2 separate regions of the Homo sapiens genome follow, and region 2 is linked to region 1. Evidence: fine-mapped expression QTL. Tissue or cell type: whole blood. Region 1 holds a variant in brackets; the other region holds the start of a gene. All regions are shown on one strand. Distances are between the middles of the regions.

What was found. PIP is the estimated chance that this variant, and not a neighbour inherited with it, causes the effect.
Region 2: it holds the start of CASTOR2, and the variant in region 1 is fine-mapped to the expression of CASTOR2 in whole blood (INTERVAL, PIP above 0.99).

The regions. Positions count from the first base shown.
Region 1 is chr7:75,022,554-75,026,706 of GRCh38, reverse strand. It overlaps CASTOR2 (cytosolic arginine sensor for mTORC1 subunit 2), which reads right to left. Exons shown (of 9, transcript NM_001145064.3): 8 at 2,173-2,267; 9 at 1-2,073. The coding sequence ends at 2,008. Among named protein-coding and RNA genes, the nearest start is that of RCC1L, 49 kb to the left of the region's middle. The variant G/T (reference allele first, on the strand shown) is at 1,697.
Region 2 is chr7:74,962,202-74,966,361 of GRCh38, reverse strand. CASTOR2 (cytosolic arginine sensor for mTORC1 subunit 2) reads right to left here and starts at 1,657. Exons shown (of 9, transcript NM_001145064.3): 1 at 1,264-1,657. The coding sequence starts at 1,376. RefSeq lists a silencer at 1,810-1,919.

The DNA of each region.
Region 1 (4,153 bases):
TGTTCTGGAGTTTTGTGCAAAACAAATTAACTTAAAAAAAAAAAAGTTGGTTTCTAATTAATGTGGTGGGCCTTCAACACCCACAAGGATTTTAAAGAACAGCTTCTCCTTCTGGTGGGCTTCCAGGGCTCAGAGGGTCCCACTCAGAGAAGCAGGGAACACTTTGTCAGGACTAGAAAATATCCCTTCTCCTCTGACCACAGAAACAGCACAACTCGGCTGGGTGTGGTGGCTCACGCCTGTAATCCCGGCATTTTGGGAGGCCGAGGCAGGCGGATCACTTAACTCAGGAGTTCAAGACCAGCCTGAGCAATGTTACGAAATCCCGTCTCTATTAAAAAATACAATAACTAGCCAGACGTGGTGGTGCGTGCCTGTAATCCCAGCTACTTGGGAGGCCGAGGCAGGAGAATCACTTGAACCTGGGAGGAGGAGGGTGTAGTGAGCCAAGATCGTGCCACTGCATTCCAGCCTAGGCAACAGAGCCAGACTCCCATCTCAAAAAAAAAAAAAAAAACCCCCGCCAGAGCCAAAACCACAGGGGCCCTTGGTCCTGCTCATTCAGAAAACCACCCCACTGGAAGGGACACCACGGCTAACCCCATGCCTCCTGGACATGACCACTCAGCTGGCCTGCCACCTGGCTGTCCACCTCCCCATGGCCCTCGGGTTCCCTCACCCCCTCCGGTGCTCAGATAGAACTACAGCTGGTTGGTGGGAGTTCCCATGTGGGGTGCCAGCGGCTCCAGCGTCTTGTAACAGATCTCTGCTCCTAGCTTCCCTTCAGAAGAGAGGGCCCAGGCTCCTGTGACATCTCCCGATTCCCACTGCCTGTCCCTGGAGCCACAGAGCACCAGCTTAGTGACACAGAGCCTCCAGGCTCCCTTGACAGAACTCAAACAGGTCCTATCCCTGCCAAACAGAAACTACCGCCAAGAGCACCCTGGGTGCAAATACATTAAATAAAAAACTAAAACAAAGTATGGTTTTCTCTATTAAGGCTCAGTTAAGCTGCCTCCTGGGTCAAGTACTCATGAATGCCACAGCCCCCAGCCAAGGGGCGGGTGGGCAGGCAGGTGACTTGGGGGCAGAGGAGGGAGGAGGACGGCGGGGAGTCCTATGCTGGTCTAGTTGTCTGTTGGGGAGGTGGGACACCACCTAAGAAACCTCAGGCCTGGAAAGCCAGGGATGTCCCTACTGGGGGAAGCTGAGGCTCTACCTGCCCAAGTCGGGTCCAGGGAGAGCCGAGGGGACAGGAGCTGGTGCTCCAGGCTGGTGGGTCTCCTGGGACCCTCCCTCCTCCCCCAAGGACTGAGTGCTTGTGGGGGAGGGTCTGGACAGGGCCCTCTTGGCAGTCTTGCTGGGAGTCGGGCCCAGGCCCTGTGGTTGGCAGGCGAGGTACAGGGGGAGTCTGGGTCCTTCCCAGCTCGGGGATCCCACCTGGGTTCCTGTCTGAGCCTCACCAGCCCCGATGACCTGAGGGGGCCACGCTGGCCTCCACTCCGAGGGAACCAGCCCTGAGCTGATGGAAGCAGAGACCAGTGACCACAGTACTCACCCCCAAACCCTCCAGGGCACCCCAAACTCGGCCCCACCCCGCCAGCCCCAGCCCTGCAAGGTGACATGACAGCTGGCACACCGGTGTCTCGCAGGAGGGACCGGCTTCCCTCGGCATCTGCCCCTGGCCGTGGGTGAG[G/T]CCGGATGAGAAGGCGGATCAGCTCACAAGCTCCCTGGGCCTCCGAAAGCATTTTCCGGGGTGGGGGAGGTAGGGAAGAGAAAGGTCGTTCTCTGGAGGGTCGGGGGGCTCCGGGAAGGCAGGAGGGCATGGAGAGGCCTTGGCGTGGGCCCCTGCCCTGGAGGGATTGGCAATCGAGGGAGTCTCCCACAGAGGCCCCTTCCTCAGGGTCCCCAGGCTGATTTTCCAGTCTGTAGAGAAATACTGCAAGATCAATCTTCAGGGTTAGGGCTGGGCCCGGGCGGCGGCAGGGAGGAGCAGAAGAGACCCTTCTAGTGCTTCTCTGCTTGGCTGACCTTCAGGGCACTGATGACACCATTGATGTTCTCTTCGGGGACCTGTGCAGGGGTAGAGGAGGCAGATGCCTGCCCGTGAGCCCAGGAACCTGCTTCCCCACCCCGGCCCTGCCCTGGAGGGGTCTGGCGCTGGACACTCACAAGTGCATGATCAAACTTGAAAGTACTGATGTAGTAGGCTGGGATGTCTGCAGCAGCCAAGGGCTCTGAGATCTGGGCCACGATGCCACACTCATCTAGAACAGGAGAGACCGTCCTTAGCCTCTGTGTAACCTGGCTACCCTTGCCTGTGTGGCTCTTCAGCCTCTACCCTCTGTGGGCAATGCCTACCCTGCACCCACCATCCTCCTAGAGAATTCCCATCTGCTATCCCTTTTATTTTTTTTGAGATGGAGTCTCGCTCCATCGCCCAGGCTGGAGTGCACTGGCGTGAGCTCACTTCACTACAACCTCCACCTCCTGAGTTCAAGCAATCCTCGTGCCTCAGCCTCCCAAATAGCTGGGATTATAGGCGTGTACCACCATGCCCAGCTAATTTTTTTGTATTTTTAGTAGAGATGGGGTTTCACCATGTTGGCCAGGCTGGTATCGAACTGCTGTACTCAAATGATCCACCCACCTCCACATCCCAAAGTGCTGGAATTACAGGCGTGAGCCACCGTGCCTGGCCTCCCACTGGCCATCCCTCTTGAAGGCTTAACCCAGATGTCCCCCAACCAGGAGCCTTCTCTGGTCGCTGGCCAGTGAAATAGTTTGGCTTTGTGTTCCTGCCCAAATCCTCCAATTGTAATCTCAAGTATTGGAGGTGGGGCCTGGTGCAAGATGACTGGATTATGAGGGTGGATTCCTCATGAATGGTTTAGCCTCATCCTCTTGGTACTGTTCTCGTGACAGTAAGTCCTCACGAGATCTGGCTATTTAAAAGTGTGGCACCTTGGCTGGGAGTGGTGGCTCACGCCTGTAATCCCAGCACTTTGGGAGGCCGAGGCGGGTGGATCACTTGAGGTCAGGAGTTCGAGACCAGCCTGGCCAACATGGTGAAACCCCATCTCTACTAAAACTACAAGAATTAGCCGGGCGTGGTGGCACGTGCCTATAGTCCCAGCTACTTGGGAGGCTGAACCCAGGAGGCGAAGACTGCGCCATTGCACTTCAGCCTGGGCAACAGAGCAAGATCCGGTCTCAAAAAAAAAAAAAACAAAAAACAAAAAGAAAAAAAAAATGCTATCCACCAAAGACGTTGTCTGGACAACTGTGGAAACAGAGGAAAGACTAAGTCTTAGGGAATGACTGAAAATTTTCTCCTGTGGAATCCTGTCATTGTGGTTATATAGGAGAAAGTGTTTCTTCTTTTTTTTTTCTTTTTTTGAGGTGGACTCTCGCTCTGTCGCCCAGGCTGGAGTGCAGTGGCGCCATCTCGGCTTGCTGCAAGCTCCGCCTCCCAGGTTCATGCCATTCTCCTGCCTCAGCCTCCCAAGTAGCTGGGACTACAGGCGCCTGCCACCACGACCGGCTAATTTTTTGTATTTTTAGTAGAGACAGGGTTTTGCTGTGTTAGCCAGGATGATCTCGATCTCCTGACCTTGTGATCCTCCTGCCTCGGCCTCCCAAAGTGCTGGGATTACAGGCGTAAGCCACCTTGCCCGGTGCTTCTTCCCAGGATGGAAAAGGCGAGGCATTTAGGAGTAAAGTGTTGGGTGTCAGACTCTCTGGGAGATATGTGACAATTACATGTATTTACGTGAAGAAAACATGTTAAAAAATTGCCAGCAGTTATTATCTTTGAGCTGTGGAAATAAGGAGTGATTTTTTTTCTCTTTAATTTTTATCACAGCCCCAATTTATTCTTTTTTAAATTAAATTTATTATTATTTTTTGAGACAGAGTCTTGCTCTGTTGCCCAGGCAGGAGTGCAATGGAGCGATCTTGGCTCATCGCAACCTCTGCTTCCTGGGTTCAAGCGATTCTCCCATCTCAGCCTCCTGAGTAGCTGGGATTACAGGCGCACGCCACTGTGCCTGGCCAATTTTTTGTATTGTTAGTAGACATGGGGTTTCGTCATATTGGCCAGGCTGGTACTCCTGACCTCAGGTGATCCACCTGCATCGGCCTCCCAAAGACC
Region 2 (4,160 bases), 60 kb after region 1:
GCAGGTCTGGCTCCATCTCGCAAACAATAGCCGGACTGAGCACCCGGCTCAGACACACACATCAAAGTGAGATTTCCAAGCAAGAACTTTTCACAGGCAGATAACAGGCTGGAATTATTTCCCTGTGTCCCTAGAGCTCAGTGCCAAAGGGGGCAGCCTAAGGGGGCTGTCATTTTCACGCTAACCTTGACCCGAAAAGTATTCATTCATTTTGCAGTGAGGGAGAGCCACCACCGCCCCAAACCGCGAAAAACCAACCAGTAACAACTTTATCATTCCTTTTTAACAGTCACAATGGTGGGCAAATGAGACTTAAGTTACAGCAGCTAGCTGGCACTCACACTCCCCTCGGCTCAGGCTCCTTAAACAACAACAACAAAACCCTAATGCAAGCACCCACCGGGGCTCACAATGTCAAACCCTTACCTGGCATAGGGAAAATCCAAGTGAGAGAGAGAGAGAGAGAGAGAGAGAGAGAGTGTGTGTGTGTGTGTGTGTGTGTGTGTGTGTGATTCCCTCTTTTACCTTCCAAGGCCTTCAACTATTTTTCCCCCTGCAGCATCCAAGCCCAGCCTCAAGGCAGATGCATAAACATGCCTGCTCCTCCCCTTCTACGGTTGGGCAAAACACCCCCCCACCCCCTTTCCAGGACCCCAAGGAGAAAGAATCACGTCCTCTGCAGCCCCTCCCTGGCCCTCGCCCACCCCCCGTTTCCCCCCCGCAATTCCAGGCCGTCCGCAGCAAGCCTCGTAGGCACCTTGAGATAAACACCCACTAATGATTTTATGATTTTCTGCTCTGGGTAACCGCGCTCAGCGGAATCCCTCCCCCCGCCGTGGCGACGGGGCCGGCCCAACCGAGGGATGGGGGGATGGGGGCGTTTGTTTTTTCCACGGCCTCGTCCCCACACCTGTTTTTCATTCATTCATTCGTTCGTTCCTTCATCCATTCACGGATCCGTCACTGCAGCCGCCCCAGCCCCCCGGATTTCGGGGAGGGGGCTGCGATGGGGGAGGGGGTGGGAGATGGGGGGGACGACAGAGGTGGGGGGTGGCGCACCGGGGGGTGGAAGGTTGCGAGGGGTCCGGGAGCCAGGACCCTGCGGCTCCGGCTTTGTCAGACGCGAGCGAAGCGGCGGCGGGGGCGGGGCGGGGGCGCTCCCGGGGCCCGAAGTTGTTTTCCGAGGCGCGGCGGCGAGGACAGCGGCCCGGGGTGCGCCCCCTTTGTCTGTCCCCGGCCGGCGCCGCGTCCCCGCGCGCTTACCTGGTCTTGGAGGACAGGAAGGCAAGTTTGATCAGGCCGTAGGTGAACAGCGGGATACTCTCCTTGGCGACGCTGGCAACTTGCAGCCGGTGCTCCAGGATGTGGAGTTCCATCGTCCGCCCGCGCCCCGTCCGCGGCGGCTCATCCGCGGGGGGACGAGCCGCGGCCCCCGCCCCCTCCGCGCCCTGCCGGCACCGACAGCCGGCCCGGAGACCCGGGAGCTCGGCGCCGGGCGCGGGGGGCGGCGGCGGCCGGGCCGGGCCGGACAAAAGGGAGGAGGCCCGCCAAGTTGCAAGGGGGAGCCGCGGGGCGAGGGAGGCAGCGCCGGCGGAGCAGCAGCCGAGGGGCCGAGCGGCGGAGCAGCGGCGCGCGGCGCCCGGCGCGGGGAGCAGCTGGTGTTCGCTGTAACAAACAACTTGCCACTCAAACGCCGGTCCCCGCTGCGCATGCGCGGCCCGCGCGCGGCCTGCCGGGACTTGTAGTCCGCCTGGGGGGGGGCTCCCCCGGTGCTGTTGCTGCTGTTGCTGCCGCGGGGGCTGGGCGGCCGGAGCTACCGGCAGCCCGGTGCACGGGAAATGCAGGAGCGCGGGCACCCTCAGGACTAAGGGGAAGGCCGAGGGGAGGCACGGGGCGGGTGGAGCCAGCCTGAGCCTAGGCGCGCCCTCTGGCACCCAGTCAGGCTCGGTACTAGGTGCTTGGAGTGTAAAGCGAGCAAACCAGACGACTCCGGTGCTGGAGAAGGCCCGAGTCTGGGAGCGCCAAGATGTAGGGCAATCGGTCATGAGAGTGCAGAGAAGCCAAACCGAAAAGCTTGCTGGGGACCCGGAGGGAGGGGATTGACAGGTCAAAGGGGGTGACCCGGGGGAGGGGACACTCAGGCTGGGTTTTGAAGGATGAATGGGAGTTCGTAGCAAGAGAGTGAGGGCGCGCGGATGGAGGACAGAGGCCTTCCAGGCTGCAGGAACAGCGTGTCCTAGGGCACAGAAGCGTGAAAGCCCCCACGGTGCTGTGTTTGGCTTTGTTGCAGCGGAAAATGTGAGGGAGGAGAGAAAAGAGATAAGGCAGGCATAGTCACCAGGAGTCAGGTCGGGAGGGTCATGTGTGCAGAGCTAATGAGGTGGCCATTTATCCCACTGGAGAGGGGGTGATGGGGACTGCGAAGGGTGAATTCGGGGAAAATGTAAAGTGCGTCTGAGGCACTTCCAACCCCAGGGCCCACGCGCCGGGACCACAGAGGTTCCTCCTTCATGGCTGTCTGGTTTTGAAATGTTCTGGGTTAAAGTGATTGGTGCTTCCACCTTTGGCAGAGTAATCTGGGGACGCGATGGGTGAGATCTATCTGCCAGGGCAGGCTGAGAACTCTCTTTCAGGGGAAAATTGCAGTTGTGCTCCCTCACCTTCCCTCAGCCCTCCTCTGTTAGGTAGGAACATACTAGGTTTTGTCATTTCCACAAAAGGGTGAAAAGCCTGTAATCTGTGGTAGATAGATCTTAGAGCATGCATATCCCCCTCCCACTTTATTTTCTTTTACTCTTTTTCTTTTATTTATTTATTTTTTAGAGACAGGGTCTTGCTCTGTTGGCCAGGATGGAGTGCAGGGGCGCAATCATAGCTCACTACAGCCTCGAACTCCTGGGCTTAAAAGATCCTCCCACCCCAGCTTCCCCAGCAGTTGGGACTACAGTTATGCCTGGCTAATTTTTTTTTTTTTTTAACTTTCTTTTTTCCCCCCCGAGATGGAGTCTTGCTCTGTCGCCCAGGCTAGAGTGCCATGGCGCGATCTTGGCTTACTGCAACCTCCTCCCCCTTGGTTCAGCGATTCTCGTGCCTTGGCCTCCCAGCTAGCTGGGATTACAGGTGCTGGCCACCACGGCTGGCTAATATTTGTATTTTTCGCAATGTTGCCTAGGCTGGTCTTGAACTCCTGACCTCAGGTGATCCACCCACTTCGGCCTCCCAAACTGCTGGGATTACAGGCATAAGCCAATAAGCCACCATGCCTGGCCTTTTTTTTTTTTTTTTTTGAGTCGGAATCTTGCTCCATCACCCAGGCTGAAGTGCAGTGGCACGATCTCGGCTCACTGCAACCTCCCCCTCCGAGGTTCACGCCATTCTCCTGCCTCAGCCTCCCGAGTAGCTGGGACTACAGGTGCCCGCCACCACACCCGGCTAATTTTTTTGTATTTTTAATAGAGACAGGGTTTCACTGTGTTAGCCAGGATGGTCTCGATCTCCTGACCTCATGATCCGCCCGCCTCGGCCTCCCAAATTGCTGGGATTACAGGCGTGAGCCACCACACCCGGCCTTTTTTTTTACTTTTTGTAGAGAGGGGTGTCTCACTATGTTGTTCAGGCTAGTCTCGAACTCCCAGCCTCAAGTGATCCTCCAGCCTCAGCATTTTTTTTTTAAAGCTTATCTGTCTCTCCCCTACACAATCTCAACTCCACAAAGGCAGTGATTTTTGTCTGTTCTCCGCTGTGTTCCCATTGTCAGCAATAGTGACTGGCCTATGAGAGACACTCATTCAATATTTGTGGAATGCATCAATGCACCTATCTATGCCTTTAGAATCTAGAGATCCAGAAATCCCAAACAGAAATGCATTCAGGGGCCAGACAGATTACACAGATGTGTGAAGCAGTTGGCTATCAGATAGTTGGAAATGTGGCTGGGCGCGGTGACTCACGCCTGTAATCCCAGCACTTTGGGAGGCCAAGGAGGGTAGATCATTTGAGGTCAGGAGTTTGAGACCAGCCTGACAAACATGGTGAAACCTCGTCTCTACTAAAAACACAAAAAAATTAGCTGGGCATGGTGGTGCCTTCTCCTGAGGCAGGAGAATCGCTTGAACCCAGGAGGTGGAGGCTGCAGTAAGCTGAGATCGCGCCACTGCACT